Linked DNA regions of Homo sapiens. The protein of the gene in region 3 interacts with the protein of the main gene of each other region in a pairwise test. Each region holds a gene or a part of one and is shown on either strand. Other genes may lie near its edges.

Evidence for each region.
Region 1: the proteins of LONRF1 (region 3) and KCTD21 interact in binary tests that used the Homo sapiens proteins (3 or more experiments, as listed by UniProt).
Region 2: the proteins of LONRF1 (region 3) and GABPB2 interact in binary tests that used the Homo sapiens proteins (3 or more experiments, as listed by UniProt).
Region 4: the proteins of LONRF1 (region 3) and ALAS1 interact in binary tests that used the Homo sapiens proteins (3 or more experiments, as listed by UniProt).

Annotation. Positions count from the first base shown.
Region 1 is NC_000011.10:78,185,326-78,192,910, reverse strand, and holds the start of KCTD21 (BTB/POZ domain-containing protein KCTD21), read left to right. Parts: upstream 1-4,284; 5' UTR 4,285-4,338; exon of another isoform or gene 4,339-4,387; intron 4,388-7,585. UniProt on the Homo sapiens protein: Probable substrate-specific adapter of a BCR (BTB-CUL3-RBX1) E3 ubiquitin-protein ligase complex mediating the ubiquitination and subsequent proteasomal degradation of target proteins. Promotes the ubiquitination of HDAC1.
Region 2 is NC_000001.11:151,115,664-151,123,285, reverse strand, and holds part of GABPB2 (GA-binding protein subunit beta-2), read right to left. Parts: intron 5,895-7,622; coding exon 5,770-5,894; intron 5,330-5,769; coding exon 5,030-5,329; 3' UTR 1-5,029. UniProt on the Homo sapiens protein: May function as transcription factor capable of interacting with purine rich repeats (GA repeats).
Region 3 is NC_000008.11:12,744,905-12,752,526, forward strand, and holds part of LONRF1 (LON peptidase N-terminal domain and RING finger protein 1), read right to left. Parts: intron 1-7,622.
Region 4 is NC_000003.12:52,193,140-52,201,454, reverse strand, and holds the start of ALAS1 (5-aminolevulinate synthase, non-specific, mitochondrial isoform 1 precursor), read right to left. Parts: upstream 3,296-8,315; 5' UTR 3,200-3,295; intron 2,784-3,199; 5' UTR 2,637-2,783; coding exon of another isoform or gene 2,607-2,636; intron 2,246-2,606; 5' UTR 2,235-2,245; coding exon of another isoform or gene 2,214-2,234; coding exon 2,015-2,213; intron 1-2,014.

The DNA.
Region 1 (7,585 bases), on a different chromosome or scaffold from region 3:
TAGAAAGAGTACTAGAAAGAGTAGAAAGAGTATCAGACTAGGAATGAGGAGTCCTACATTCTAGCCCTGACTCATTGTGTGACCCTCAGTAAATCATACCCATGAGCCTCTTTTCTGTAAAATGGGGACAAATGCTATTAGACTGAACCGCATGAAACCGAATGATCAAATGTTGGCAATTTCATGTTGTTCTACCTAACACCACATAAGCCTGGCAGCTGACAGTTCAAATAGAGCTGCTCCATGAGAGCTCTGATCTCCAAGGCCAGCCGGCAGCCTCTGCTCAGTCCGTAGCCTGGCCACAGCAAGCAAGCCCTGCCCACCTGCCCCAACTCCCACGCAGGCAGTCTGAGGACAGCTGTCACCATGGTCACCAGCAAACCCACTCAATATCTTGCATGCACTCAGACAAAAGGGTTTTAGAGGCTTGCACCTCACCTGGCCCCATCAGGCCAGGGAAGGGAGGACAAGGCCAGCTATCCCACTGGCAGGAATGAAGAAAGTGAGGCTCAGAGAGAGGAACATGGCCTTGGCAAAGCAGGATTAGAACCTGCACTCTGCCTCCCTCAGGAGGGCTGGATTAGCCTGCTAAGCCCCGGGTGAGGAGATGGCCTGTCCATGCTGGCTCTGACTCAAGAGACAGCTGCCCCGCACCAACCGCAGCAGCAAACAGCAGCCATGTCCTCCCCGAGGAGAGCCTGTGTTAAAAGCTGAAGATACAGGTTTTCTGCTTCAAAGTCATGGTGACCTTGGGTGAGCCCCTGCCTGGCTTCTTAGCCTTCTCATCTGGAAAATGGGGACTATTCCAAGCCTACCATTCACAGGGTTGAGACAAGGTATAAAAAAGATGAGGTCCTCATTAACACGGTGAAACCCCATCTCTACTAAAAATACAAAAAATTAGCCGGGCGTGGTGGCGGGCACCTGTAGTCCCAGCTACTCAGGAGGCTGAGGCAGGAGAATGGCGTGAACCCAGGAGGCGGAGCTTGCAGTGAGCCGAGATCATGCCACTGCACTCCAGCCTGGGGGACAGAGCAAGACTCCGTCTCAAAAAAAAAAAAAAAAAAAAGATGAGGGCCGGGCTGTCATGAGTCTATTTTTGGGCCACCTGGCACTGATGGGAGACACAGATACTGTCAGGGAAAGGAGACAAGGAGACACGCACTGCTGATCCTGCTGATTCTCCAAGGCATTTCCTCCATTAGCCCTCCCTGCCACTTCGGTGTTCCCAGCCCCACCCAGGATCAGACCCCTTGACTTCTTGCCTGGACTAGTGCAGTAGCCTCCTAACCCATCTCCCAATTCCCTCCCTCAATCCATCCTCCAACAGAGGCATGTGTCCTAGAGGAGAACAGAGTCCAGGCTTCGAGTCTAGCCCAGCCACCATGGAGGTAGGTGTTCTTTTACCTCTGTGATCCTCGGAATGCCCAAATAGAAGGTGACTACGTGCCCACCCCTTAGCCTTTCCCAGCCAGCGCTGCTGCTCCTCCCAAGCCCTTGCCTCATACCCCTCGCCCTACTGGCATGACAGCCTGAGGGGCGTCCCAGCAACACCAGCACACTCCAAGGCACGCAGTGAGCACTCAGGAAAATCCCAATCCCTCTGCCAAAAGGCCCAGATCCTTTCACCTGTTCCTCTCGGATGACCCTCAACATTTCTGCCGAGTGTTGACTGATCTCTGCTCCTGCACAGTTGAGCCTGACTTATCTCCATCACCCCAAAGCACCCTGTGTGTGTGTGTGTATGTGTGTGTACACAACTCCTATGCTCAGCCCCACTGCCACGCCCTGGGCCCCCGCTCAAGCTTCATCATCCCTCCTTGGTCTCTCCAGATGCAGCATCGTCAGATGGAGCTTATTACACGGTAAGCACCATTCCGTCCATGCCCCTGCTCAGAACTCTCAACACTCTCCAGCCCCTTGGACCCAGAATAAGGTCCAAACTCCTGAGCCGGACATGCAAGCCCTTTCTGTGACACTCAGCTGATGTGGGGCAGGGGTGGAGATGAACTCAAGCAACATTGTTCAGTGGAGACTCTGCAGACATTGGAGCAGGGGGCTTTTTCCTGACTGCTACTTTGCACAATGTCCCCTCTACTGAAAAAGGGCTTTTCCCTCTTCTCTCCTGGAAAATTCTGACTCACCCTTCAATGCCCAGCTCACATGCCCTCTCCTCTGGGAAGCCTTTCCTTTTCCCTCCACAATTCAAGTGTCTAAAGTTCTGGCCTCCAAGGCCCTCTTAGCTATTCTCATCCCTCTGCAGCATAACTGGAATCCATGTCTCTGTCTCCCACCAGGCTGGGACCTCCCTTGGCAGAGGTCCAATCCCCGTCTCTGAGCCCAGTGCCCAGTACAGAACCAAGGACTGAGGTGTCCGTGAAGGTGCGTCAAGCAACTCATGAGAGACATGTGACAGCAAGATGAGAGAAAACCAAAGATGTAACCACAAAAGTACCTTCCAGAAACTGGCCTAACCTTTGGTCCAGTCACCACCCCCTCCTTTGCCCAGGCCTGGTCTTGCATATCAAAAACCCTGAAAATCTTAAACATCAGTCAAGAAAGCCCCTACAGAGGTCACTGGACTGGACTGAGGCTTTAGCCATTCTAGAAATTGTTCAAACAACCAAAGCAAAAGAAAAAGCACAAAACAAAAACAAAACAAAACAAAACAAAAATCTGTTCCTGGTTAGCCTTCAGGTCAAAAGCTCACAGAATCTCCTAGGACCTGAGAAGAAGGCTTCATGGTGTTACTCAACCTCTCCCTGCTCCAGGTCAGAGCAGCCCCTCCCAGCCTCTGCTCAGCACCTAAGAGCTGAGGAGCACATTTCCTCCCCTCTCTGACCCTCGAAGCCAGCCTCCCTCCTTTGACTCCCCTGGGAGCCAGAGCTTCCTTGGGGGTACCAGGCTGCCCCTCCCGACACCAGGTGGTGCCCTCCATCTCTGGCCCCTCAGGTGTCTGAATGGCAGCATCTCTCTAGGTATTTTTTAACTGAACTTCTACCCAAGGCAACCCTGGGAAGAAGTGCTTCACCCTACTCCGGGAGGCCCATGTCTGGGCCACCAAACTGTCTCCTGGAAAGAAAAAGAAAAAAGGGTTTCACTGGTAAAAAGCAGCTGCTCTTCCTCAAAGGATAAGGAGGAGAGAGAAGGGAAGAAAGCAGGAGCAGCTATTCCTCCTCAGGAACCCACCACACACACCTATCCCTGCGGGGCCACCCCTCACAAACCTGTGAGGGCCGCACTCCACCCCAAGCTTTCTGGAAGGAAGGGCACCAAGCTGACACATCAGGGTCTCCGGTTTGCAAGGGCCAGGGCCGTAAGAGGGGGTTGGGGAGGGTATCCCAGGGCCCAGCACACTGAGAATAGGAAAAGCCCATTCCAAGCAATGGTGGCCTCGGGCCCCCCAGTTTGTGCCACCTCCCTCCCTCCAGTGCACCCGCGCCCAGCCCACGCTTGAGCTGGAGGGCCCCACGAAAAGCCAGCAAGCGAATGTACTAGGTACTGGGTGCGAATGCCCTCTTACCTGAAAGGGGAGGGAGCAGGATCACTTCGACATACAATTGATGAAGGGAGGGGATTAATGCCCAGAGAGGAATAGCTACTCGCCCAAGGTCACACAGTGAGGCCCAGGAGGCCCAGGATGCACCCAGATCTCCCGACTCCCAGCCCTGGGCTCGCAAGTCCAGGGTTCTCGAAAGGCCAGGGTGCAGACACCGCCCCCCAAAGACAGTCACACGCCCCCAACCCCCTTACCTCCCGGACCCCGGTGGGCCAGAGCCGGCTGCTGGGCGGGGCGCTCAGGCCGGGCAGGACGAGGCTGGGCCCGGCTAGGTCAGGGCTGGTCCTCTGCTCCCCCCAGGGTGGGGACGCCCTCAGCCAGGTCCCAGACGGAAGAGATGCTGCTTCCACTGCAAAATCCAGTCTTCCCACCCCGCCTGGCACAAGCCTCTATGTATCCAGGAAGCCCGACTCTGCGGCGCGGCCCCGGGGCTGCGGGATGAAGCATGGGGAGGGGCGAGGTGCGTGAAATGGGGCGGAGCCGGAGCGGGGGCCACCCCGCGAGCTGCCACTCTGACCGCGTCCCCTTTAAGGCCAGCCGGCCGGACACCGGCGGGGACGAGGCGGGGCGCAGAGCAACTCGCTGCAATGCCTCCTGGGAGATGGAGTTCGCTCTCGACGCGCCGAGCTGCGAGGAGCCCAGAGAGAACTACCAGTCCCGGAAGGCAGCGCACAGACCCCGGACCGCCACGCCCCTGGGCTGGGCTCCTACCCTCCGCCCCCCTCGCAAAGCTGCGCTGGCCGCTCGCGGAGGGAGAGGCTGCAGAGCGAGGGCAGGAGGTGGGTGCGGCACGGCCGGGGTCGCGGGGCTCGGGGACTACCGGCGAGGGTACGTGGGCCCACTGAGCACCTGTCTTACCATGAGACTAATCTATCCCAGCCTCGCCATTCCCATCTGTGAAATGGGGATGGCATCGCCTGTGGTGCGGGGGAGGGGGCGCGTTTCGGAGCGAGGTGAGCCGAAGTGGGCAGAGCTCTTAGAGGGGCGGGGCTGTTGGGAGAGCAAGGGCGGATGGTGATAGTCGGAAAAGCCCGGATAATGAGGGTCGGGACTGTGGGAGGAGTCCTTGGTGGGTGGGGCAAGGAGAGGCGGGATCTCTAGGTGGGGGTGGGGCACTTGTCAGGTCGGAGTGGGGGCTGTAGGGCTGGGGAGTGGGTGCGGAACAAGCCGATGAGGCCAGCCTGGGTGAGATTGGGGAAGGAAGGGCGGAGACACAGATGACAGGGAACTTGCCCCGCTCTGGAGAGCCCTGGGCCGGCCGCGCTGTGGCGGCGTGGGCAAAAGCCTGTGATGCATAGAACACCTCCCTTTACTGACTGGAAATAAAGAGTCCATCCCCGAGTTCAGTGCGGCACACCAGTGATCTCATTGACCTCCCACGCCCTGAAAAGTAGAGGCGTCACTATAGCGGTTGACAGGTGAGGAATGTGAGGCTCAGAAAAGCGAAGGGACTTGCCTAAAACCACTCAGGACTCCTTACTTCAAAGACCTTGCTTTTCTCCCTGCACTCGGGGAGGCAGAGGTTTAGCTTGGCGTGGGAGGCAGGAAAGAAAAGTTTTGATGCCCCGACCTTCGCAAATTGTCTGGCAGGACCAGTCCCCCCAACCCTTCCGAATGACAGCCTGTAAGGCAGCCCTCCTATAGTACTGTGAGGATGAAATGAGATGGATTTGAAAGCACGGTGTTTATAAATTACTGTTTGGAGGAGACATAGGAAGAGAGCGGTTTGAAATGGGGTGCTGGTGCCGGAGGAAAAGCACAAGGTGAAGCGTGAGAGTGAGCCGAGAAGGTGAAGGAAAGTTCTGGAAGGGGCTGGGGGATGGTAGTGGTTGTTGGAGGTCTACGCCAGATGAAAGAATACCTTGCCGTGCCAGATTCCGTGGTCTCCTTCTTCCAGCCCACCTTTCTCTCCTCCTGCCTTTTGCGCAGCTCATTCTGGGGTCCCTGTGTCTAGGAAGCACCTTTTCTCTCCTCCCTATGGGTTGTGATGGTAATAGAGCAGCCTTCGGATTTCTTAGAGATATGGACTGGGCAAGACAGAATTATAGACGCAGCTCTTTGATGTGGGGTGGTCAGGAAGAGGAGGTGAAGAAAGGGTAGTCGTCCTAGGGGCTTCAAGGCAAAGAGTCCTTTCTCCGGTGGGGTAAGGTGGGGAAGTCTCCCACTTACTGGAAAACACAGTACTCACTCTGAGCATTGTCTTTTTTGAAATTTACCCAGCCACGTGCTGTCCATTCCCTTACGCAGTGGAAACTCTCCTTGCATTTACTCCCAAGTAATCACCTCGGCCTTGTCACATCCCTTTAGATTCCAGATTGAAAATTGAACAGAGCATTTCAAAATTAAAAAGTTTTGAAAATCCAGGTGGGGAAAATGGATCTGACTAAACAGGAGAGAAATTTCTTCCTCTTCCCCTATTCTACGTGCTTCTGTGGATATAGAAAGGGGCACCCCCAGCCCCAGCAAGGGAGCCAGGCATCCATCTACTTAAGTAAAGTTGGCTGTGGTAAGGGGTTAGACTAAAATTCTCCGCAGATGCAGAGGAGAAGGAATGAATTCCAGCTGAGAGACCTGGCCGATGCATGGGATTTGTCTTCAAGGTCCAGGCAGAGGGGATGGCAGATGCCAAATTGCAGAAGTCGAAGAGGGCCCAGTATGGTTGGTCTGTAAAGTAGGTATATAATAGTATCTACTTAATCTGTGAGATTGAAAGAGATTAACATGTATAGAGTGCCTAGCACGGTAGTAACTGCTCAATAAACGTTAGCCATTATTATTGCCGTTGTAGTGTTTGTTGTTGTTATGATCATCATCATCTGCCCAGGAACGTGCCCAGGGCTGCACAGCTAGTAAGTGGCAGGGGATGATTCAAATGCAAACCCAGGTAATGCCGAATACCATGCATGGTCTGCCCCTACCCCACACAGCCTCTCCAGTTCTTTTCTTTTTTTTTTTTTTTTTTTTTTTTTTTTTTTTTTTTGAGACAGGGTCTTACTCTGTTGCCCAAGCTGGAGTGCAGTGGCGTGATCTCGGCTTGCTGCAGCCTGACCTCCCAGGCTCAAGCGATCCTCCTACCTCAGCCTGTGCAGCTGGGACTGCAAGCACGTGTTACCATGCCCAGCTAATTTTTTTTTTTCTCTATAGAAACGAGGTCTCATTATGTTGTCCAGGTGGTCTCAAACTCCTGAACTCAAGCGATCCTCCCACCTGGGCCTTCCAAGTGCTGGGATTACAGGCATGAGCCACTGAGCCTGGCCTGTCTCCAGTTCTTTCTGCCCATCCTTGACATTTCTGAGGCCCAGGAGTGGCCTCTCTTTGTCAACATTCACAGTGAGTCATGACAGGAGTTTCTTTCCTGCCGAGTTACAGAGATTCTGGGTTCATGATGAGGCAGGAAAAACAAGGCCTGAACAGCCATCTTCTTCCAGGCAGAATCACAGCACAGAAGATAGGCAGACCTGGCCGGGCGCGGTGGCTCACGCCTGTAATCCCAGCACTTTGGGAGGCTGAGGTGGGTGGATCATTTGAGGTCAGGAGCTTGAGACCAGCCTGGCCAACGTGGTGAAACCCCGTCTCTACTAAAAATACAAAAATTAGCCGGGCATGGTGGCACGCACCTGAAATCCCAGCTACTCAGGAGGCTGAGGCAGGAGAATCACTTGAACCTGGGAGGCAGAGGTCGCAGTGAGCCAGGATCACGCCACTGCACTCCAAACTGGGTGACAGAGCGAGACTCTATCTCAAAAAAAAAAAATAGGCCTAGTGGTGTGGTTTCTGTGGGTGGTGGCTCTATCCAGACTGCCCACCCAGGCTTAGATTCTAACTCCTCCACCACTTAGCCCTGGTTGGCATCCTCACCCTTCAAAATTCAGAAACACTTGGGAAGGAAAATTATGAGCTTTTCACACTTCTAAGTAGTAGTAGTAAATCTGTAACTTACTAAATCTGGCGACTTATTGGGGTCTGGCACAATGACTGTAACTTTACATCTATTGGCCCTATGAAGAAGTGTTCTTCCCCCCTCTT
Region 2 (7,622 bases), on a different chromosome or scaffold from region 3:
CAGGGTTTTGCCATGTCGGCCAGGCTGGTCTCGAACTCCTCACCTCAAGTGATCTACCCACCTCAGCCTCTCAAAGTGCTGGGATTACAGGCGTGAGCCACCGTGCCCAGCCATTTTTGTCTGCTATTTGATTCTTAATAATCCAACCTTGCCAATAAACAGTTGGAATCCTCTAACCCAGAAGATCTAAGCAATATTTCCCCAACTTCCATGACTAATCCAGAAAGATATGCAAAGTCATGAAATGGTATTGCCATTAATGTATTCAATATTTAATTTCTAACTACTTCAAAGCATCCTCACCTGCCATTCTCTCCATGGCAATACAATTGGAGATCAAATCCTATTTCCCTTATCTGGGATGCCAAGAGGACCGTTCCGAGTAAATAAAAATCAATGCCTTTTTCTTACTTATTTTCAGATACCTCCATTCTCTCCCTCTCTACCCTAGCCTCTCCTCTAACAAACTGCCCTATCTCAGAGACCCATCATAAAAAATGACTTGGCCTGTATTAGAGATTTTGGGGGTTGGGGAGGTAGGAATGATAGCTTCTGCAGAAAGAACAATAAGATCTGCTAAAGAATTCCCCCAAAAAAGTGGTGACTGTATAGTCAGAAGGGCATGTTGGATGGACATTCTCTGCCTTTAGTCAGTAGCCACCCCAGAGAGTGAGCTGGTTGGGCCTGAATATCATCTGCAGAGTTAACCTCCTTCCCCTTAATGGGCGAGGTGTGGGGGAAGAGGGATTAAAGTCAACATATGCACCGAGAACATAAATAAAAGATATCTAAAATGATACTTGGTTCCTCTATCGTTAAAGTAAGGCTCCGAAATCCCACACATAACAGCTTCTTGTTAGCACCTGGTTCCCAAAGGGACTCAGAAAAAATAAAAACATTGCAAACAGGAAAAGATTATTTGACAGCAGATAGAACAATTTCATCATCACCCTTACCTAGGCTACTCCCCCTCACATTTTCCTGTCATCCCCAACAGCCCAGAATATTCTCCAATCATCTGGGAAGTGTTAAGTACTCAGATCTGTGGAGAAAACAGATCTGTGGAGAAAACCTAGCTAAGGTGGCCAGTAGCCAAGGTTAATTTCCAAACTGATATTTTTGCCTATAAATCTCTAATAACCAATTCTGTTTGTTAAATTTGGTTTGGGGAGTTAAATTTTCAGTCTATTTTGAGACCCAAGTGATTCTGCTCCTCTGTAACACTGCAGCAAATTACTTCACTAATCAAGGTAAACAGAACCATGTTAACTGTCAGGTTTTTTCCAAATTAAAAATGCATGTTTTCCCCATGACTGCTAATTAAGAAAACCATATTCTAAACAGTCATTCGAATGTTTACTTGGCACATCTCCCTCTGGTTTCTTCTAATTTATAACAAAGCAAGCAAGTCTAGAATGATGAGGGCCCAGTTTCAAAGGCAATAACCTCTGTAACATAACCTGTTCATAACCTCTCTCTCTCCATCCATATTCCCTTTCTTTGGGAAAAACTCCATGCTGACATACAAAGAAAACCCAGCAGGTAGGTGGTCAGGCGCAGTGGCTCACGCCTATAATCCCAGCACTTTGGGAGGTCGAGACAGGTGGATCACCTGAGGTCAGGAGTTCAAGACCAGCCCGACTAACATGGAGAAACCCCATCTCTACTAAAAATACAAAATTAGCCAGGCATTGTGGCGCATGCCTGTAGTCCCAGCTACTCGGGAGGCTGAGGCAGGAGAATCACTTGAACCCAGGAGGTAGAGGTTGCGGTGAGCCAAGATCACGCCATTGCACTCCAGCCTGGGCAACAAGAGTGAAACTCCGTCTCAAAAAAAAAAAGAAAAAGAAAAAGAAAACCCAGCAGTTAAACACTTTCCAAAAGTGTCTGGGCAGAGGAAGTGTAGGCATAGTGGGAGAGAAAGGAAGAAGACAAAGTAGCCAGAATCTTTGGTTCTTTATGGCACTGACAGTTCTTATTCCCTTTGTCAACACACACTGAGCACCCTATAAGGCACAAAGCTCTGTAACAGACCCAAGCTTAAGGAAACAGAGCAATTTACTCATGCCAGATCAAAAGGAAATAAAACTAAACAACATCATCAGCATTTACCTCCGACCCCCTTTTTGTTGCACATAAGAGGATAAGATATAAGCTCCACAGAAAAGCACAATATGTCCTAAATGACACTTAGAAAATTCAACAAAGTTTTATAAAATTAGAGTCTAGGCTGTGCGCGGGGTGGCTCACGCCTGTAATCTCAGCATTTTGGGAGGCCAAGGCGGGTGGATCACCTGAGGCCAGGAGTTCCAGACCAGCCTGACCAACATAGAGAAACCCTGTCTCTACTGAATATACAAAATTAGCCGGGCGTGGTGGCGCGTGCCTGTAATCCCAGCTACTCGGGAGGCTGAGGCAGGAGAATAGCTTGAAACCGGGAGGTGGAAGTTGCGGTGAGTTGAGATCACACCATTGCACTCCAGCCTGGGCAACAAGAGCAAGACTCCGTCTCAAAAAAAAAAAAAAAAAAAAGAGAGACTGAGCTTGACATTACATAAATGTTTGGAAACAAGTTTTTCTGACAAGAGACTACCCTCCTCACTGTAATTTTATGAAATCCAGTCAGAGCAAAGTTTATATGTCAAGACCAGAGTTTCATAGCCCCTATAAGCCTTTTTCTGGCCACTTCCCAGCACTGTGGAAACACAGCCTGGATTTTGGTTTTATATATACTCCTCCCACATAAACAAGTTTTCTTTCTTTTCTATTTTTTTTTTAATTGAGTTTCACTCTTGTTGCCCAGGTTGGAGTGCAATGGTGCCATCTCGGCTCATTGCAACTGCCGCCTCCCGGGTTCAAGCGATTCTCCTGCCTCAGCCTCCTGAGTAGCTGGGATTACAGGCATGTGCCACCACACCCAGCTAATTTTGTTTTGTTTTGTTTGTTTGAGACAGAGTCTCACTCTATCGCCCAGGCTGGAGTGCAGTGGCATGATCTTGGATCACTGCAACCTCTGTCACCTGGGTTCAAGTGATTCTACCGCCTCAGCCTCCCGAGTAGCTGGGATTCCAGGTGCCTGCCACCTCGCCAGGTGAATTTTTGTATTTTTAGTAGGGTTTCACCATCTCGGCCAGGCTGGTCTTGAACTCCTGACCTCATGATCCACCCACCTCAGCCTCCCAAAGTGCTGGGATTACAGGCATGAGCTGCCGGGTCTGGCCCTAATTTTGTATTTTTAGTAGAGACAGGGTTTCTCCATGTTGGTCAGGCTGGTCTGGAACTCCTGGCCTCAGGTGATCCGCTCGCCTCGGCTTTCCAGTTCAGTTTTTAAAAACTCTATTTCAATTTCCTTTTTTTTTTTTTTTGAGACAGAGTCTGGCTCTGTTGCCCAGGCTGGAGTGTAATGGTGCGATCTCAGCTCACTGCAACCTCCGCCTCCCGGGTTCAAGCGATTCTCCTGCCTCAGCCTCCCAAGTAGCTGGGATTACAGGCAGGTGCCACCACGCCCGGCTAATTTTTTGTATTTTTGTTTGTTTGTTTTGTTTTTTTGAGACAGAGTCTCACTGTGTCGCCAGGCTGGAGTGCAGTGGCACGATCTTGGCTCACTGCAACCTCCACCTCCCAGGTTCAAGCAATTCTCCTGCCTCAGCCTCCCAAGTAACTGGGACTACAGGCGTGTGCCACTATGCCTGGGTAATTTTTGTATTTTTAGTAGAGACGGGGTGTCACCATGTTGGCCAGGATGATCTTAATCTCTTGACCTTGTGATCCGCCTGCCTCTGCCTCCGAAAGTGCTGGGATTACAGGCGTGAGCCGCTGCGCCCGGCCAATTTTTTGTATTTTTAGTAGAGATGGAGTTTCACCGTGTTAGCCAGGATGTTCTTGATCTGACCTCGTGATCCGCCCGCCTCGGCCTCCCAAAGTGTTGGGATTACAGGCGTGAGCCACCACGCCTGGCCTAGTTTCCTTTTTCCTTTGAGATACAGTCTTGCTCTGTCACTCAAGCCTGGAGAGCAGTGGTGCAACCATGGCTCACTGCAGTTTTGACCTCCAAGGCACAAGCGATCCTCCCACCTCAGCCTCCTGAGTAGCTGGAACCATAGGTGCCTGTCACCATACTTGGCTAATTTTTAAATTTTTTGTAGACACAGGTTTCTATGTTGCCCAGGCGCATCTCAAACTCCTGGACTCAAGCAATTCTCCCATTTCAACGTCCCAAAGTGTTGGGATTACAGGTGTGAGCCACCACACGCAGCTTATTTCAGTTTCTTACACAAGCATCTGAACTATAGACACATAATGGATAAGTATCTGTCAGACAATCAAAAATTTCTTCTCAGTGATGTGGTGGCATATGCCTGTCCTCCCAGCTACTCAGGAGGCTGCGCCCTGGAGGCGGAGGTTGCAGTGAGCCAAGATTGCACCACTGTACTCTAGCCTGGGTGACAGAGTCAGACCGTGTCTCAAAAAAAAAAAAAAAAAGGGAAAATTCTCTTCAGTGAAATTAACTTAAGGTTGGGAGTTCCTGCTCCTTTGGAAATGGACTATATTCCTTTTCTCTTCCCCAAAGCTTGTCTAACTTCCCTTCCAATTGGTTTTTCCAACAGATACGCATCATAAATCTAAGGGGCATTTTCAGGTCACTTGATGGTATAATTATTAAAGGCATATATATTGGTGCATATATATTAGAAATGTTATCTTAAAATCTTTTGTGAGAAAGTCAGTTATTTAAAAAAAAAAAATCAACCCACAACATGCAGTATTCTTTTACTTCTATGTTTAAAGCAATGATATGAGCTAAGAAATTTGGTCCTTTATTCTTTTGGCCCCTCAGAAAAAATGTTCCCTAAATATGGCTTTGAATTTTCTAGTTGCACAGAGAAACTTCCTGAGCCCAAGCATTGTACCCTGCTATAGTTTTCTTCTTAAAGACACTCTTAGTTTTTATACAATGTTTGTCTTCTGTATATTTCCTTTTTTAAAAGAGGATTAATATGAACACAGTGCAAATTGTGGCCCTTGCATATTAAGATGAAACAGTTGCCATGGAAACTCTAGTGTGAGGCTCTGTGGTCCCTGCTGACCCAGTCACTTTTGTCTCTCTCTCTTCCAACTCCCCCTCTGTGACTACTACAGCATCTACCTCAGCCACCTCTTCAACCATGGTGAAATCAACTCCATTGGGCTGCTGTCGGGCTATGGCCTCCAGCTTAAGACGGTACTGTTCTGCTTCCTGCTCTTTCTTTAGGAGCTGGTGTCGGTATTCCTGGGCTCTTCGATTGGCCTCCTGGAGTTGTTGCTGTAGTAGCTCTCTTTCATTGCCTTCCTGTAAAAGTAAGCCATGTCACCACCAGGTAAATTCCTGATCATAAATTATCCAGACAGTAGACAAAAAGACAGGCCAGGAGCGGTGCCTCACACCTATAATCCAAGCACTTTGGGAGGCAGAGGTAGGCAGATTATCTGAGGTCAAGAGTTCGAGACCAACTTGGCCAACATGGCAAAACCCTGTCTCTACTAAAAATACAAAAATTAGCCAGGCATGGTGGCAGGTGCCTGTAATCCCAGCTACTCAGGAGGCTGAGGCATGAGAATCACTTGAGCCCGGGAGGCGGAGGTTGCAGTGAGCTGAGATCATGCCACTGTACTCCAGCCTGGGCAACACAGCAAGACTCCGTCTCAAAAAGAAAAAAGAAAAGATGAAGAAGGGTTCAGGCCTTAATAATTAAGGCTTTAAATTCTTTTCATCACTCCTAAAAACATTACCTTGCTTTCCTCCACACTGTTTGTCTTCTCTCCTATCCTTGGTTTCTTTGTTAGTGGCAACTTCTCTTCTTCTTCCTCTTTAATTACAGTCTCCTCTGCAACCTTACCAGCAGGTACAGTTAGAACTACAAGTCAAAGGACACCAATTGGAGGTGATGAATGCATAATAAAACAAAGAGGTTTTGCTTGCTTTTAATTAGAAAATAAACTAAAATATATTCTAGGTTGGGTACAGTGGTGTGTGCCTGTGGTCCTAGCTACTCAGGCAGCTGACTGGAGGACTTCTTGAATCCAGGAGTTCAAGACTAGCCTAGACAACACAGCAAGACCCCATCTCAACAAAAAAGCAAAGAAAGAGAAAGTAAAATATATTCCTTGATATATTATTTTTAATATCTCTTTGAATTTTCGAATCAACAGGTAAGGCATGGCCCTTCAGGGAGAAACAAAAAGGATTAATAGAGCACTGAGAATGGCTCAAAAAGGAAGGGTATAGATTTGCAGGCTTGGAAGCCATGCAAGTAAGTCCCAAGTCTGAAGCTCTTATATGAAGGTGTCTGACTCTAGGTCACCTATGGCCAATTAGCTTATCAATCCGCCCAGAAATGGCAGGGCAAGGTGGCTCACACCTATAATTCTAGCATGTTGGGAGGCTAAGGTGGGAGGATCACTTGAGCCCAGGAGTTCAAGACCAGCTTGGGCAACATGGCAAACACTGTCTCCGCAAAAAAAATACAAAAAATTAGCCAGGCATGGTGGAGCATGCCTGTAATTCCAGCTACTTGGGAGGCTGAAGTGGGAGGATCACCTGAGCCTGGGAAGTTGAGGCCGTAGTGAGCCAAGAACTCGCGACTGCACTCCAGCCTGGGTGACAGAATGAGACCCTGTCTTAAAACAAACAAACAAACAAAAAAAACTGCAGAAATAATCTGTCAAAAGAAGGCCTGAAGTCTTTATATATTTTTGAGACCTCTAATAAAAGCCAATAGCCATTATCTGTACCTAAATTAATTCTCTTCTCATAGATAAGTGAGAGAAGAGTCAACACACACACAACACACATGACACACTACACATCTGTCAGAATGGCTAAAAGTTGTTTTTTTTTTTTTTTTGAGATGGAATTTTGCTCTCGTTGCCCAGACTGGAGTGCAATGGCGTGATCTCTGGAGTGCAATGGCTAACTGCAACCTCCGCTTCCCAGGTTCAAGTGATCTCCTGCCTCAGCCTCCCAAATAGCTGGGATTACAGGCATGCCCCACTACACCCGGCTAATTCTGTATTTTTAGTAGAGACAGGGTTTCTCCGTGTTGGTCAGTCTGGTCTCAAACTCCCGACCTCACGTGATCCACCTGCCTTGGCCTCCCAAAGTGCTGGGATTACAGGCGTGAGCTACCACACCCGGCCTTTTTTTATCGAGAAGTCTCACTCTGTAACCTAGGCTGGAGTGCAGTGGCACAATCTCAGCTCACTGCAACCCCCACCTCCTGGGTTCAAGCAATTCTCCTGCCTCAGCCTCCTGAGTAGCTGGGACTACAGGTGCATGCCATCACACACAGTTAATTTTTGTATTTTTAATAGAGATGAGGTTTCTCCATGTTAGCCAGACTGGTCTCAAACTCCTGACCTCAGATATTCCACCTGCCTTGGCCTCCCAAAGTACTGGGATTACAAGTGTGAGCCACTGTGCCGGGCTAAAAGTTTTTTAAAAAGTGATGATACCAAATGCTGGAGAGGATGTAGACATACTGGATTATTCATAAATTGCTGGTGGGAATGTAAAATGGTACAGCCGCTCTAGAAAATAGTTTGGCAGGATGGGCGCAGTGGCTCATGCCCTGTAATCCCAGCAC
Region 3 (7,622 bases):
CATCAAGTTCTCACTCCTTTATATTTGATGACATGCACGTTCAGAACTGCTGAATATTTCCCCTTTTATCCATGCCTTCACTGCTCAATCACCTTTATACAGTTTCTTTACGGCAGCAGTGAAAGAAGTGACTCAGAAGACCCGTCTTTGAAAAAACAAACTATAAAATGTATCCACTCTGACCAAAGCAAAAAAAGACATATTCCTTCCCCTCTCCACACAGAAAAATTCGGGATATTGAGATCTCCCTAAAGGAGGTCCTAAAAAGTCAGTATATGTTGGGGTAAGAAGAGAAGATGCACGCCCTAAGTAGAGATAAAAAGAGCCAGATTTTAAAACTCTTTGTTCCCTAACTCCTTGTATGTAATGCTCTTATTGAAAATGTTAACCGATTATTTTGAATGATTATTTTTTTGGAAAAAAAAAAAAAAAAAAAAAAAACCAACCCCATCAGGTGAGTTCAAACTTCCAATACTTTTAAAAAAAGATTAGGACCATCACACTGATCTCAAATTCTTAAGCGCCAAGTGCGCTAAATGAGCCCCTTTGAAAAGCATACACAAGGTCTGCCTTCCACGTAAACTTTCAAGAAAGACAACAAAATGGCTATCAGTCCTGACTGTATCATTAACTTAAGTTTGAAAGAGTCAACAAGTATTTACTGTATGCTCTCTACGTGACCTTGAGGACACTACAGACGAGTCACCTCACTGCACACGCCATCAGGGAAGATGCTGGTGCTCACTCCATTACTGCAGGTATCTGTATTGCCCAGCAAGTGCCTGGCATATTATGTATTTTCCATTTTTGAAATCGACAAAATTTCAAAAGTTGTCAAAATTTTGACAACATTGACAAAATCCAAAGACAACATGGTTTGGGTTAATTGTATTGAATATGACTGTGGTACTTAACTCTGTGACCTTATTCTAAATCACTTAATATCTCTGGTCTTGTACCCATATCTACCAGAAGCAGGGACAGATGTGCTAGTTGTCATGATTTAACTCCCTGATCTTTATCTTTAGTCCTGATTTTTCACCCTAACTTCAGATTCATCAAATTTCCAACTGCCTGCCATAATTTTTCTAAACTCAGCATTCTTCACCAAAAAAGCATTTTTCATTGTATTCTCTATTATTGACACCACTAACTTCCCAAATCAGAATCAACTTTGTAAATGTCACCTCCTATGATATTCCTCAAATCTCCCCTTTTCCAATCCTATCTCTAGTAATCCTGGGTTAGGCTCCCCAAATCTCTAATACTATTGCAATAGCTTGCTCACTGATCTCCCTGCCTTCAGTTCTACTCTACCTATATCCTTACCATTCACAAGGTAAAACAGGTATTATTTAGTACAAGTTCCTCCATGCCTGGCTCCTGCCCATCTCTCCAGCCTTAATTATCATTATGAACCTTCCCACTCACTCAAAGTCCCAACCATACCTAACTACCCACACTGCCCCATGTACACCATTCTATTTCATGCCTCATTCCTGTGCTGAGCTCCTCCCTTACCATACCATTCTTTATCTTGATAAGTTTTTATCATCCAGCAAGACAGCTCACCAGTCTCCTCCCAAGATGCTTTGCTTTGGGTCTTCCTCCACAATTTATGATAACCACTAAGAGCATGATCTGGCTCTTCCACCCACTCACTGTGACTTGGGGTAAATTACAAGTAATCTCTGTACTTTAATTTCCTTAGCTTTAATATTCCGGGGCTTTTAAAACATTATTAACACCACTATGTGCTGTTCTAAATGATTTACAATCTTCAGCACAATTCTACATGGATCTAGGATTGTCCACATTTTTATAGAAAACAGTGAAGAGTATATGCAGCTTGCCCATGATCATACAGCTAGTAATTGGTGGATTCGAGATTCTAACTCAGGAAGCCAGCTCCAGAGTTCTAGCTGTTTACCTCCATGCTATTAATATGTTGGTAACAGTCTCTACCCCAAGGCTTACTCTAGAGAGTAAGTTAATCGGTGCATAGTACTTAGAACAGGGCTTGGTACATTGAAAGCATGGCGTGTTTGCTATTATGATTCTGTGCCTTCATCGTATATATACATTATTTATTAAAGTAATTTAATTCAAAGATGTTTGAACTCCCTCCGTTATTTCCTGCCTTTTATCCTCAGATCCTGGCTTTGATAAATGTTTCCTGAATTAGAAAAAATTCATTAAAATTTGATTCCTTAAGCTCAATTCATGTTCCCATTTTCTCCTTTTATACCCAGTATTATTTGTAAGTCATTCAGCAAGGAAAAAGATTTAAATAAGACTCTGCTCCACCATCTGAGGAATCTAGTCTTCGGCTGTCCAAAGCATTTATTTCATGGGTTGAAGAGAGAGTTTTCTATTCTAGAGTCATGGTTTTCTATCTTTGTTCCAATCATTAGAGATCCATGGTTAGTAACAGGTCTTAAAGTTGTTTCTTTAGTTCACCTTCAAGAAAGTTTTTTTCAAATCACAAAAGCTTAAAAAATGTTTACTCATACAATTTGAAAAATATAGAAATAAGAGGTAAAAACTATCTTTTACCCATCACAAAGAAATAGCCAGTGTTGGTGTTAACAAAAGAAAAAATTAGCACAAATTTAAGGTTCGAATTGACTTTTATTTGTGATTCTAGGAATGGGCAACAGCTCATTCTATAAAATGGGTCTTCTAATGAGCTAAGCAGAGGAGGTTAGCCTTCTAGGCAGAAAAGGTTTAAAGAAAGCAGAAATAAGGGACAAAAAGTAGATTGGTTGTTTTAAAGTTGAAAACTTTCTTTACAGGTTAAAACAGAGAGGGCTGTCTTATTTCACTAACTCAGGTTGACTGAAATCTCTCTCTTTTTTTTTTTTTTTTTTAGAAAACTGGCTCATTTCAGTTCAAATTCAAAGTTCAGTTTGATTATGTGGCACTCAGCACAAGGGCCTCCATTCTAATTCTGTCTGGTCTGCTGGTGCCTAGTGCAGGTCAGTCTAAAACAAACGGCCTCCCATACATTTTTGTTCTTTATGTGTAAAGTACATTTTTAACATGTAGTTTTATAAAATATACTATATATGCTGTTTATAATCTGCTTTTTTTCCCATGTAATACTAGTCCACATGATTTTTAATAGTTGCAAAATATCCTACTATATATACAACCTATTTAAAAATTTCCTACTCTGCAATTAAGTTACTTCCAACTTTTGGCAGTATAAAAAGTATAACAAACGTCTATCTTTATGTACCTGCTTGCCTTTTTAGTTATTTGCTATACAGTATGTAGAAAGTTATTTATTGCTTGTACTTTATTTATTTGAGAAAAGATCTAAGATCTCACTCTGTAGCCCAGGCTGGAGTGCAGTGGCATTAACATGGCTCACCGCAGCCTCGACCTCCTATGCTCAATAGATACTCCAGCCTCAGTAGCTGGGACTCCAGGTGCATGCCTCCACACCTGGCTAATTTTTAAATTTTTTTGTACAGATACGGTACCACTATGTTGCCCAGGCTGGTCTCAAACTCTTGGGCTCAAGTGGTCCTCCCTCCTTGGCCTCCCAAAGTTTTGGCATTATATGCATGAGCCACCATGCTGGGCCTAGAAAGTTATAAAGATATACAACATTTCCAACACATTCTGCCAACCCTTCTTTTATAAAGACTTTATTTTATACTCCCACAAGCTGTGTTTCTTCTCTTTGCTAGAAATACATAAATTAAAAATAGCATCGTAATTTTAACAACCTCCATTTCTTCATTAAGTTTGACCTTTAAAACTTTGTGTTTATTCAGTATTTGGGCTGTGTATAAAGTTCTCTATTCATATTCCTTTTCTCATTTTTCTGAGTGTCTTTTTCTGAGATTTATATATCAAGCTATCGAAATTTTCAAAGGCTAACCAGAATATCAATTTTTTTTTTTTGCTTCTATTGCTTCATTATGTTCAGTATAGTATGACTTGGTTACCAGGGTTGAGCTCAAAGCTGCCAAGTGATAAGCTGTTGATCATTGATTAAGAATGTTCAGGAGTAGGAGTTTGGGATAGTAAGATCATTAACACTAGATTCAGAAATTGGGTTCAGATCCCCTTTTGGTAGTTTAACTCTTTGAACTCTCCTGACCTATAATATGCTTACCTCTAAAACACCTACATTTTATAACTGCTGTGAGGATTGAATAAGATAATGCATGTTAAACAGTTAACACCAAACCTAAGACATACATGCTCCATCTATAATAATTGTTGATAACATTCCAAAATATCTCAAAACAAAGTGATGAAGATATTAGATTAACCCTTGATACAAGATACAGAAGAGTATTTTCTACCTTGTCTTTTACCCACATAAATGGTAGCCTAGATAAGAAACATCTTTAGGGATCAGGAGAGCAGACTGGACAACAGACAGCACAAAGGTGGGTCAAGGGGATGGGAAGCAAAAGACCTTACCAAAGGGAAAGAAAAAACCAAACAGAAGCTTCCATCTTGCATTTTAGAGTTCCCTGAAGTCATTCAACTTCAATAATAAAACAATTCCAATTTTGAGAAATACCTTTGGAAAGAGGCAGAACACTATACAAATTCATTTAAAATTTTACTCGAGATTTTCCAAGGCTCTTAGAAATATTCCAACAAACAGAAAAATGATTCTGAATAAACAAAAAGTTAATATATAAATAACTAGAAATCTAAGATAATTCAGTTTTGGTAAATTCTGCATTTGATGAATGAAAAACAGTTAAAAAACAAATTATTCATTTGAAATGGGACACTTGAATCAGTTTTTTTATCATTTATATCAAAAGCCATTACAGTTGATCTTTTTAGTAACCCTGAGGCACTAAGAAAAAAAATCCTTAAAGTACCTTATGAATCAAAGAAAATAATTAGAGATATAGTCTCGGTTAAGTAGAAGCCAATTAAGCAGTAAACCCCATTTTCTAGGGATTTTCAATTTGCTGCAATTACAAAAGAAACAAAAAATACAAACTCTACAAGGACAGGGACTTTATTTTACTCCTTTTTTATATTTCTAGCACCTAAAACAATGCCTGGTATATAGTAGCTACTCAATAAAAATTTGCTGAATAGTAAGAATATTTTAGATTTATGTTTTGCGTGCTAATTTTTAAATCAACTTTGTGTTTTGAATCAATATGCACATATTTGGGTTCTGCTTTCAGTTTTAACTTGGTCACTTACTTCCCTTAAGAAAGTCACCCAAAATTCTTGCAACTTTTCTTACATCTGTGAATTAGGGATATTAATACTTGCCCTCCTATCTCACATGAGTTTGTGTATGGATCAATTACGATAATAGAAATGAAAATAATTGTGAACTATAATCACCATACAGACATCAGTGTTTACTGTTTCAAGTCCTCTGCACAATAAGTAAGGACATAAATAAGTTAGCAAGAGCCTCCCTTTACCCAAGGGGGATACGTTCCAAGACTCCCACGGATGCCTGCAACTTCAGATAGTACCAAGCCCTATATATACTATCATACCTGTGATAAACTTTAATTTATAAATTAGGTGTAGTAAGACATTAGCAACAATAACTGATGATAAAATAGAACAATATAACAATATGCTGTGATAAAACGTACATGAAAGTGGTCTCTCAAAATATTTTATCATACTGTACCATGTGGGTAACTGAAACCACAAATAAGGGGAAACTACTGTATTGTTTAAATTCAAATTTCTTCATTTTAACCTAGTTGAGTTACTAAAGATAATAAAAACCCTCTACATTTTCTTTAAATGTATTCAGTATTTACCTATAATTTGACTGATCTTCTGATAGCTAAAGCTTTTAAGTATCTATAGTTTATTGATGAATGCTAAACTGCTAGTTAACATGTGTAAACTAAAATCGGGATGTAATTGTTACTCTCTACCAAGTGATAGAACAGAACAGGATGTAAAATTGCAAGGTTTAGATTCCACTTTCAGCAAAATCCCCTTCTAGCCGTAACACACTTCTACATTTTAAAAATATTGAATTAATATTTACTGGGCATTTACTCTGTGTCAGGCACTATTTAAAGCACTTAGCATGTTTTGACTCATTTGATTCTCACAACACCCTATGAGGTAGAGACTATTCTCATTTTTCAGATAAGGAAACCAAAACACAGATAGGTTAGGCAACGTGCACAAGGTCGGAGAGAGGCGAGGGCTGCGTCAGGATTGGAACCCAGGTGTCAGCTTCCAGCATGCAGAGCTTTAATCACTAAGCCACACTGCATGTCTATCCATAGATGCCTCAGTTTCCCTCTGAGGATAATATTACAGTACTCCATAGAATTCTCTGTGAAGATCAAATGATATTAATATAAATAATGTAAAAATACTGGGTAACAGTCAAGGATTATATTTTTATTTTTATGTTTTTTTTTTTTTTTTTTTTTTTTGAGACTGAGTCTTGCTCTGTTGCCCAGGCTGGATGGAGTGCAGTGGTGTGGTCTCAGCTAACTGCAACCTCCACTTTCCGGGTTCAAGCAATTCTGCCTCAGCCTCTGGAGTAGCGGGAACTACAGGCATGCACCACCACGCCTGGGTAATTTTTTGTATCTCTAGTAGATACGGGGTTTCACCATGTTGGCCAGGCTGGTCTCGAACTCCTGGCCTCATGCGATCCGCCCGCCTCGGTCTCCCAAAGTGCTGGGATTACAGGTTTGAGCCACCATGCCTGGTCAAGCATTACAGAATTAATATTAAAGACAAAATTTTCCTTACCCAAATATTTTAAAACAAAATATCACCCCCCCACCTTACAACCTTTTTTTTTTTTTTTAACCTGTACAAACTGTAAATTATACTGTTCTGTTGTCTTCCTCTGGGGGAGAGGTGAACACACGAAGGAGATAAGTCAGTGTAAAAAAACATTAAACACAAAAGGCAGGCAGCATGGCTTAGGGGGATCATTTCAGTAGGCTCAAGCACAGAGATTCAGTGCAGGAAAAACTTTACATAATATCCCTGAATACTAAAAAGACAGAAAGTTATGAAACATCTGAGAGTTAATACCAAAAGATCAATGGTTTAAATGTTATCTAAATATATTTCAATTCAACAGAAACTTATGTAATCTAAATGGGAAACTTCTGATTTTGGCAAAGGTTTTCAAGCTTTCTTTTGCTGCTGGCAGAGATAAGTTTGGATGTGTGTGGGCTAACTGCAGACTAGATTTTTTCTAGTTAATAGTATTTACTTGTTTCATTATAAGAATTATACGAAGAAATTATAGTGAAGATCTTTTTTCATTATCAACAATAATGACAAGATCATTAATAACTACAACCGTACAGTTATATAAATACATGTCAAATGCCTAGCTTGCCAATTCCAAAGAAGTTAAAGCCTAAGGATTGTACAAACAGCTTATGACTGTACTAGTTAACATTTTGATTTACACCCATAAATTGTGAGACACTTATAAATCGGCCCTTTACCAACTCTAATTTGTTAGCTCTGAGATTTTTTTCCTGTTAGTTCACATTAAGAATTCAAAAGATTAAAAAACTTATCCTCATTAGTGCCATTCAGACATTTTCAAGCATGGAATTAATGATTCTTGAAAGAACTAAAAATGAGGAAAAAATAAGCTAATGCAGTGA
Region 4 (8,315 bases), on a different chromosome or scaffold from region 3:
TAAACAGATTCTTGACAAAGAGGCTTGCTGTTGCTTAACATAAAAGCTATTGGTTTTCATCTAAACAACAGAAATTAGACTAAGACTTAGGTCTTTAGATTGCTAATAAAGTAAGAAAAAATAGGGGTATATCACATTCACATACCTCATCTACTTTCTCATCTAAATTCATCAAAGTCTGCTGACTAAACACCGTTGGCTGGTAATTATCCTTCTAGCTACAGTGACTTCCCTCTCCCCTTGAGCAAATTCATTCACCTTCTTTCTAGAAAAGTCTTTCTTCATCATTCTGGAACACTCCTGTGAGTCACTGGCTAGCCTTTCCTATAACTTGGGTAAAGTGTCTCAATACAGTTTTCATTAAAATCTTCTATAACGGAAGGCCAAAAAAATTATTTTGAAGTTAATTTCATTTATTATAAAAGTAATACATATTCATTAAAGTCTAGAAAAAGAAAAAAATCCTATCATTTAAAACATAGCCATTGCAAGCATTTTGGTAAAAAAGACGTAACTAACTCTTGAAAATAAACCCTACAAAGGATTAAATCCTTTCTGCTTAAAGAAAAAAAAAACTTATTTTCTTACAAGCCCACACCCAGAGAACACGCCTAAGAAAAACCTGTAAAATATTCTCTGGGATTAAGTGGAACCTGAAAAGCTTTGTTCTCTCCTATCAGAAGCAGAGCAAACTAAATTCAACTCTAGTCTCTTTGTTAAAAACAACAACAACAAATGTATATACAAATAAAGATACATGGCATGATCTCAGCTCACTGCAACCTCTACCTCCCGGGTTCAAGCAATTCTCATGCCTCAGCCTCCCAAATAGCTGGGATTACAGGCGTACACCACCACATCCAGCTAATTTTGTATTTTTTGTAACAGTGGGGTTTCACCATGTGGCCAGGCTGGTCTCGAACTCCTGGCCTCAGGTGATCAAACCACCTCGGCCTCCCAAAGCGCTGGGATTACAGGAGTGAGCCACTGCACACAGCCAAGATAAATTTGTTTTTAAAAATCACTAATAAATACTGTACAATTTCACTTATATGAGGTACCTAGAATAGTCAAATTCATAGAGACAGAAAGCAGAATGGTGGTTGTCAGGGGTTGGGGAGAGAGGAATGGAGAGTTACTGTTTGATGGGTATAGAATTTCAGTTTGGGAAGATGAAAAAAGTTCTGGAGATGGATGGTGGTGGTGACACAACAATATGAATGTACCACTGAACTGCACATTTTTAAGTGCTTAAAATGGTAATTTTTCTTGGGCATTTTACCACAACAGAACAAAAACTTTTAAGAAAAAAAAAATCACTACTTTAAAAAGCCAAAGGGGCCGGGCACGGTGGCTCACGCCTGCAATCCCAGCACTCTGGGAGGCTGAGGCAGGTGGATCATTTGAGGTCAGGAGTTTGAGACCAGCCGGACCAACAAGGTGAAACCCTACTAAAAGTACAAAAATTATCTGGGCGTGGTGGTGCATGCCTGTAATTCCAGATACTTGGAAGGCTGAGGCAGGAGAATCACTTGAACCTGGGAGGTGGAGGTTGCAGTAAGCCGAGACTGCATCACTGCACTCCAACCTGGGCGACAGAGCAAGACTCAGTCTCAAAAAAGAAAAATTAAATAAATAAAAAGCCGAAGGCCAAATGTTTAATGAGGGAAATTAGAAGGCTAAATGTTTAATGAGGGAAATTAGAACATTCCAATTTAATATTTATGTGAACGAGGCACTGAGGAAACACTAAAACCCCTATAGACACTAACGTGCAATCCAAAAACCTGTAATGTGCAACACTGGCCACTGTTTCACCTTTAAAGATGGAAAAGCTAAAAGTGCCTACCCTTGGGGGGACAATCATATGAGATAATCTGTGCTCAGAGCCCAGCCTGCACATAGCAGCCCTCTGTGAGTGAGTGTGACCCTCACCACCACTGTGGGGACTGCTTCTAGTCTACCAATGAGCACAAACACCCATACCTGCTCCTTCATTGTCAATGACACTTACTCTCACTGGCCGGAGGGGTTTCTTTGATCTGTTGGTAGTGTACTGCTGCAGTGGACAATGCCCGAGGGGCTGGCTTGGCCCCAACTTCCATCATCTTGGGGCAGTTTTGGGCATAGAACAACAGAGATTTGCCTGCTTTCTGCAGAAAGGCCTGGGGGACTCGGGATAAGAATGGGCAGCGGCGAACAACACTCTCCATGTTCAGGAAGTATGCTGGCTCCTGTGGAAAGACTGATGAAGAGTGACATCAACAGTTGTTAATAATCAGGCAAATATCACTGCAAGCTCACTGGATTCAGGTGTCAACCGCAGTTTATATAAAGGGTACCCTGGAATACTAACACTTCTCCCTCAAAAATGCCTAAGGACAGCACTGATGTGAGCTAAGGAATGGTGACCACACTTTACCCGGGTCACCAACTTCTTCATTCTCCAGCGCTACACAAAGGCACCTGCAAAGCAACTTCACCAAATGAATACTGACAGTACATAATCAAGGGGGCGGAAGGATGAGGGAAAGGTCAAGAACAGGTTTGGGAGGCCAGAGGTTTCTTAGGGAGATGCACAGTGCAGATAAGACATCTTGGCTTACATCTAGGTGGAGAAGAAGCCACTCATCCATCCAGGCAGGGAAGACTCTTAGGGATCCTGACTTTCTCCTGGTCCCCACATCCCCTAAACCCGAGGAAGGGGTCCAGCAGGGTCCCGAGTCCCTGAAGCAAGGATTCCTCCGTGGTCGTGTCCCCACAGCGGGAAGAACTGGGCATAACTGAGAAAGGAGGGGCACAAATGAGGGTAGGGGTATGAGGGCCAGCGCCTTGGGCCTCACTGGGGACGCGCAGGGGCTTATAAAGTCGAGGGAGTTGAGTCTGGAGAAAGAAGGCAGTCCTCCGGCAGTGGGGGTCAGAGGTGACCCGCGGTCGAGGTCTCGAGAATGACGGGAGGGGTATGAGAAGGGAATTCTAAAGCGGCGGGTTCAACCGGGAATAGCCGGAAGGGGCCGAAAGGGGGAAACTGAGGCGGCCGTCTAGGCAAAAGATCTGGAGGATAAACGCTGACCTCAAGGCGGCGGGTGACTGGGACAGTGGGGGATGGGGTCCCAGCACCCGGGGCAGCGGTGCCACGGCTGGCAGGACACCCCGGGGCTTCCTCGGCCGGCGCCGCACCTACCGCGCGGGCCCTCACCTGCGCTGAGGACTGCAGAGGCGGCGGCGAAGGAGGCGGGCACTCAAGTCGAGAAGTCCAAACGAAACGCTCGTTGCCCTTGTCCGGGAGCAGCCTCAGGCCGCGATCGCCGGCGCCTTAATATACAGCGGGAGTGACCGCTGCGCATGCGCCTTGGGCGCTGCCTTCTTCTGCGCAGGCGCGCCGCGTAGCCCTCGGCGAGCCGGGGGGGCGGGGCAGAGAGGCCCACTTCTTGGGCTCTGCGGATATCGGTGCTGCCGGGGATTCCCCGGCTCGCCTGCAGGGAGGAGGAAGCGCTAGGCGGTGGGCGGACGAGGTCTCTTTTCCCGACCTCATCCTGCACCCTCGTGCTGCCTCCCCACCAACTACCCTGGGCTTCAGAACCCTACGCCCCAATTGAGTATAAAATGGCAAGGTCGAGGCGAGGTGCCGCTAGGGCCAAGTTGGGGGCTACAGGGTTGTTAAGCTGGGTGTCTTGGACATGGAGGAAGAAGGAGATCCAAGGGGTTCTGGGCCGGGGTGTTAAGCAGGATCCATCCCGCCTGCGGCTTGCTTTGGAAACTGTGAACAAGGGCTTCCCGGAGGAGGTGGAGCTGGCTATATCGCCCACAAATGGAGTGGTCCTGGCAGGATGCGGAAGAAGCGGGACACTCAGCTGTGGCACTTTCTGGTCTAAGATGATCCAGAGGGGACAGAGGAACAGGGCTAGGGTGGAACCCATCCACTCCACAGCTCTGAGCACTTGGGGAGGAGGGGAAGGCACAGGGCCTGACAATAGTTAGCGTGTAACAAATATTAGCCACTATTTTTATTTTCCATCCAGGGTTGTCTGAAGCCCCTTGCTGGCCACCCTGGGCACCAGCAGGGTGGCTTAGGCCTCCATGCCAAAGGTCAGCGTTGGGCCATACCTCCATTGAGTTTCCCGGGTACAACACATAAAGTGTAGGGCTTGGCAAACCCGTCTCAGGAATGTCAGTCTGGCTTCCTTGCCCCACACCCTTCCCAGCTTGGCTTGGGCTGTGTTGGGCTGGGCCTGTGCCAGGCTCAGAGGTACTCTCCTCCATTCTTGAGGAAAGGGCCTTTGAGGGTATTCCTTTCCCAGCTGAGCATTAACAAGAGGGACAAAGTCCAGAATGATGGTGACCAGGGTGTGTCCAGGTACTTTGCATTTCTGTCTCTGAGCACCCAGCTGGCTGCAAGGCAGGTGAGGTGAGTCTCCACCTTCAGAGGAGGCACCTGGGTTCAGAGTGGCAGTGGGACCAGTCCAGGATGAGGGCTTTGGTCTGAGAGCTCGAGACCCAGTTCTGTGCCATTCAGCCAAGAGATCCTGGGCAGTGCCCATCACCCAGAGAAGATGAGAGAGAAAAGGTCAGCACTTGGACTTGGACCCAAGTGCAGCTGGAAGTGGGAACAGAATAAGGATGATATTGAGTGCTTTGCTCATCTTTGGGCCTTGCTTTCCTTATCTGGGCAATAGGATCATAATCCCTGAAATGCCTGCCTCACAGGTTGTTTTTGTTGTTGTTGTTATTTTGTTTGTTTGTTTGAGACAGAGTCTCCCTCTGTTGCCCAGGCCGGAGTGCAGTGGCACAATCTCGGCTCACTGCAACCTCTGCCTCCCAGGTTCAAGCGATTCTTCTGCCTCAGCCTCCTGAGCAGCTGGGATTACACCACCACGCCCAGCTAATTTTTGTATTTTTAGTAGAGATGGGGTTTCACCATGATGGCCAGGCTGGTCTTGAACTCCTGACCTCAAGTGATCACCCTCAGCTTCCCAAAGTTCTGGGATTATAGGCTTGAGCCACTGCGCCTGGCCCTCATAGGGTTTTTTTGGGGGTGATCAGAGCCAAAGCCAAAGCAGAAAGAACTGGATAGTGGAGTTGGGCATGGGTTTCAAACCCAGCTCTGAATCTTACTTGGCCATAGACTTGGGCAGGCCACAACCTCTTCAAGGCTTGGTTTCCTGATTTGTAAAGCTCTCCCGCCCTGCCACTTGTGGCTGGCAGGAGGGTCAGGTGAAGTCCTGTATTTCAGAGGCTTATTGTTTAAACCAGCCAGTCCCTAGCCCTCTGGGAGTTTCCTGTTTAATATAGAGAAAGATTGGGAAACAAGGCCGACTCACATGGAAAGTGAAATAGAGTGTTGTAAGCAACTCCAGATGGAGGAAGAGGAGGAGGCTATTACTCCAACAGGCGCTGAAAGAGGAGGATCCCAACCACGAGGAAGGCTTCCAGAAGAGAAGCGGGTGCTGGTTGGAAGGGTGGATCTACATGCGACTGGGAGACTGTGGGTGAAGCCTTGGATGGAAAAGGCTCAGCCCTGTGGGGGTGGCGGTTGGGGGGTCAGCGTGAGTCAGCCCAAATAGCTGGGCAACGGGAGTATGGTCAGGACCTGACGCCAAGAGGTCAGACCAGAAAGGCCCTAAATGAGCCACGGGGTTTCCCAGTGTCAGGGCCCAAAGAACCACCCCCAGGGTACCGGTCAAAATGCAGATTCCTGTGCCACACACCTTTGATTTTGACCCAGAAATCTGCATTTTAACCAGCTCCCCTTTCTGATGAGGTAAGGGTGAGGTATCTTGGAATATGTTTCTTGAGTGGTTCAAGGTTTGAGACCTTGAAGAGCAAGGCATAAGCCATGAGTTCTAGTCCTAACTCTGAGATCTTGAGCAAATTGCCTCATGCCTTAAATCTTAGTTTTTGTGTCTGTGAAATGAGAATGACCCCATCTGCCTCAGTGATGAGTCTGGGTGGGCACTATTCTGCTCCAGTTGTGATCCTTCGGGGCCTCTTCTTCTCCCCTCCGCCCCCTCCTCCTCTTCTTCTTTCTTTTTCTTCTTTTCCTTCTCCTTCTTCGCCTCTCACTCCTCCCTTGTCCTTCCCTCCTTCCCCATCTTCTTTTCCCTTTCTCTCCCTTTTTCTCTCTCCCTTACCCCTCCCTCCCTTTTCCCTCCTTCCCTCCTTCTCCCTCCCTCCCTTCCTTCTCAGAGCTACAGTATAAACTCATCTTATCACTCGCTCTGGCCCTGGGCAGCTGGAGTTGAGGCAAGGTCAGGCCCCATCCCAGGGATGACGCTGGGGACTTTTTTCCCTCCCACCCAGTCTGCATCATGGTCATCATTACCATCACTATCACCGTCCGGGGCTGCTGCACATAGTACCCACCCAATGGTCAAGGCAAAAGGAAAATGTCAACCCCAGCCCCTAGAATTCCCCCTTTTTATTCTGGGCCCCAGGAACTATTTTTATTTTTATTTTTATTTTTTCTCCCTTAAATAGCTGTTTATTAGCAATGTGCTAGAAAGGGTGATGGAGTTAGCATTCACAGACAACACACACCGCTGTCACGAGGGAGGCAAGCGCGCGGGCAAGCCAGCCTGGAGCCCCGAAGAGGAGTCCCCCTCTTCAAGAGAGCGTGGGAGGGGATGGGGCCTGGGGTGTTGGGGGGCAGCCTGGGAACACCTCCGCTTACTAGGCATGGTTAAAGATGAAGAGGGACTCACTGGCAGCAGCCCCAGCCTGACCGCTTGGAGTATACTTTCCTTGACAGGCGTGGCTATCTGCCAGGGCTCACTTGACATACTCCTTCTGCACAGCCTTCAGGTTCTCCTTCTTCCTGCCCCAGGCCTTCAGGGCAGAGGCCTGCAGGGCTCAGCTATATGAGAAGGTCAGGCCCCAGGGCTTCAGGAGGGGGCACTTGTTAATGGCATTGAGGTTGATGGACACTTCCTTGCTCTGGCCTCCAGACAGGAAGGTGATCCCAGGGACAGTGGGGGACACTGTGCAGTGCAGCACTTAGTTTTTGTGTCTGTGAAGTGAGAATGACCCCACCTGCCTCAGTGATGAGTCTGGGTGGGCCCTGTTCTGGCCCAGTTGTGATCCTTCTAGGCCGCTTATTCCCCAGAGTGTAGTGCTTGTGACAGTTGCCATGGCAATCTCCTCATGAGAAAACTTCTGGATGCAGGCATGGCCTGGGGTGACCATATTGGACTTCAGCAAGGTGCCTTCCAGGTAGATGTCATGGTCACTCAGAGCCTTGTAGAGCAGCCACACCTTCTCGGTTACATACTGGCAGTACTACAAGTCATGGTCCCCACTGGGGAGGATCCTCAGGCTCCACGATGAGCACAATGCCATTCTGCTGGCAGATGCTGGCATAGTGGGCCAGGACATTGACACACTAGCATTTTCTCTTTCTTTTCTTTCTTTCTTTCTTTCTTTCTTTCTTTCTTTCTTTCTTTCTTTCTTTCTTTCTTTCTTTCTTTCTTTCTTTTTCTTTCTTTTCTTTCTTTTTCTTTCAAGACGGCGTCTCACTCTGTCACCCAGGCTGGAGTGCAGTGGTGCAATCTCAGCTCATGCGACCTCTGTCTCCCAGGTTCAAGCGATTCTCCTGCCTCAGCCTCCCAAGTAGCTGGGACTACAGGTGTGTGCCACCACGCCTAGCTCATTTTTGTGTTTTTAGTAGAGATGGGATTTCACCATGTTGGCCAGGCTGGTCTCGAACTCCTGACCTCAGATGATCCACCTACCTCAGCCTCCCAGAGTGCTGGGATTACAGGCGTGAGCCACCGCGCCCAGCTGATGTTGGCATTTTCAATGATGGTGAGGGCTGAGGGGGTGTGTTTCCCAATCTTCAGCACATGATGCCACTTGGCAAAGTGGGCTCCATCCTTCTTGTATGGGGCACAGCGCTCAGACAGCCCATCCAGCCCTTGGGTGGTGGTCTCACCATTTGCCCTTTCCAGGGGTACCACCCCCTTGTCTACCTTGATGCTCACAACATTGCCCTTGGATTTGATAACTTGGGGGAAGGGACGCCCATCATCCGCCTTTTGGTACAGCGTCTCATGGAAGAGGATGACACCCTTGATGCAGGGGTTCACGCGGTTGTCAGCTGTCAGCCACAGCTGGCGGTAGAAGCACCGGTTCTCCTCGGTATTCTCGGTGCCAATGGACTGCAGCCACTTGGCAGTGCTCCCAGTGGACTCATCTGCAGCCGGGATGCCCTTGCCCAGAGCTACGATGCGATGAGTCATGTCAGACAGCTCCTTCTGCTCCGGGGTCAGCAATGGATATTGGTAGGGCATGGTACTGGTGTTAGCAAGTTCTAGCACAGG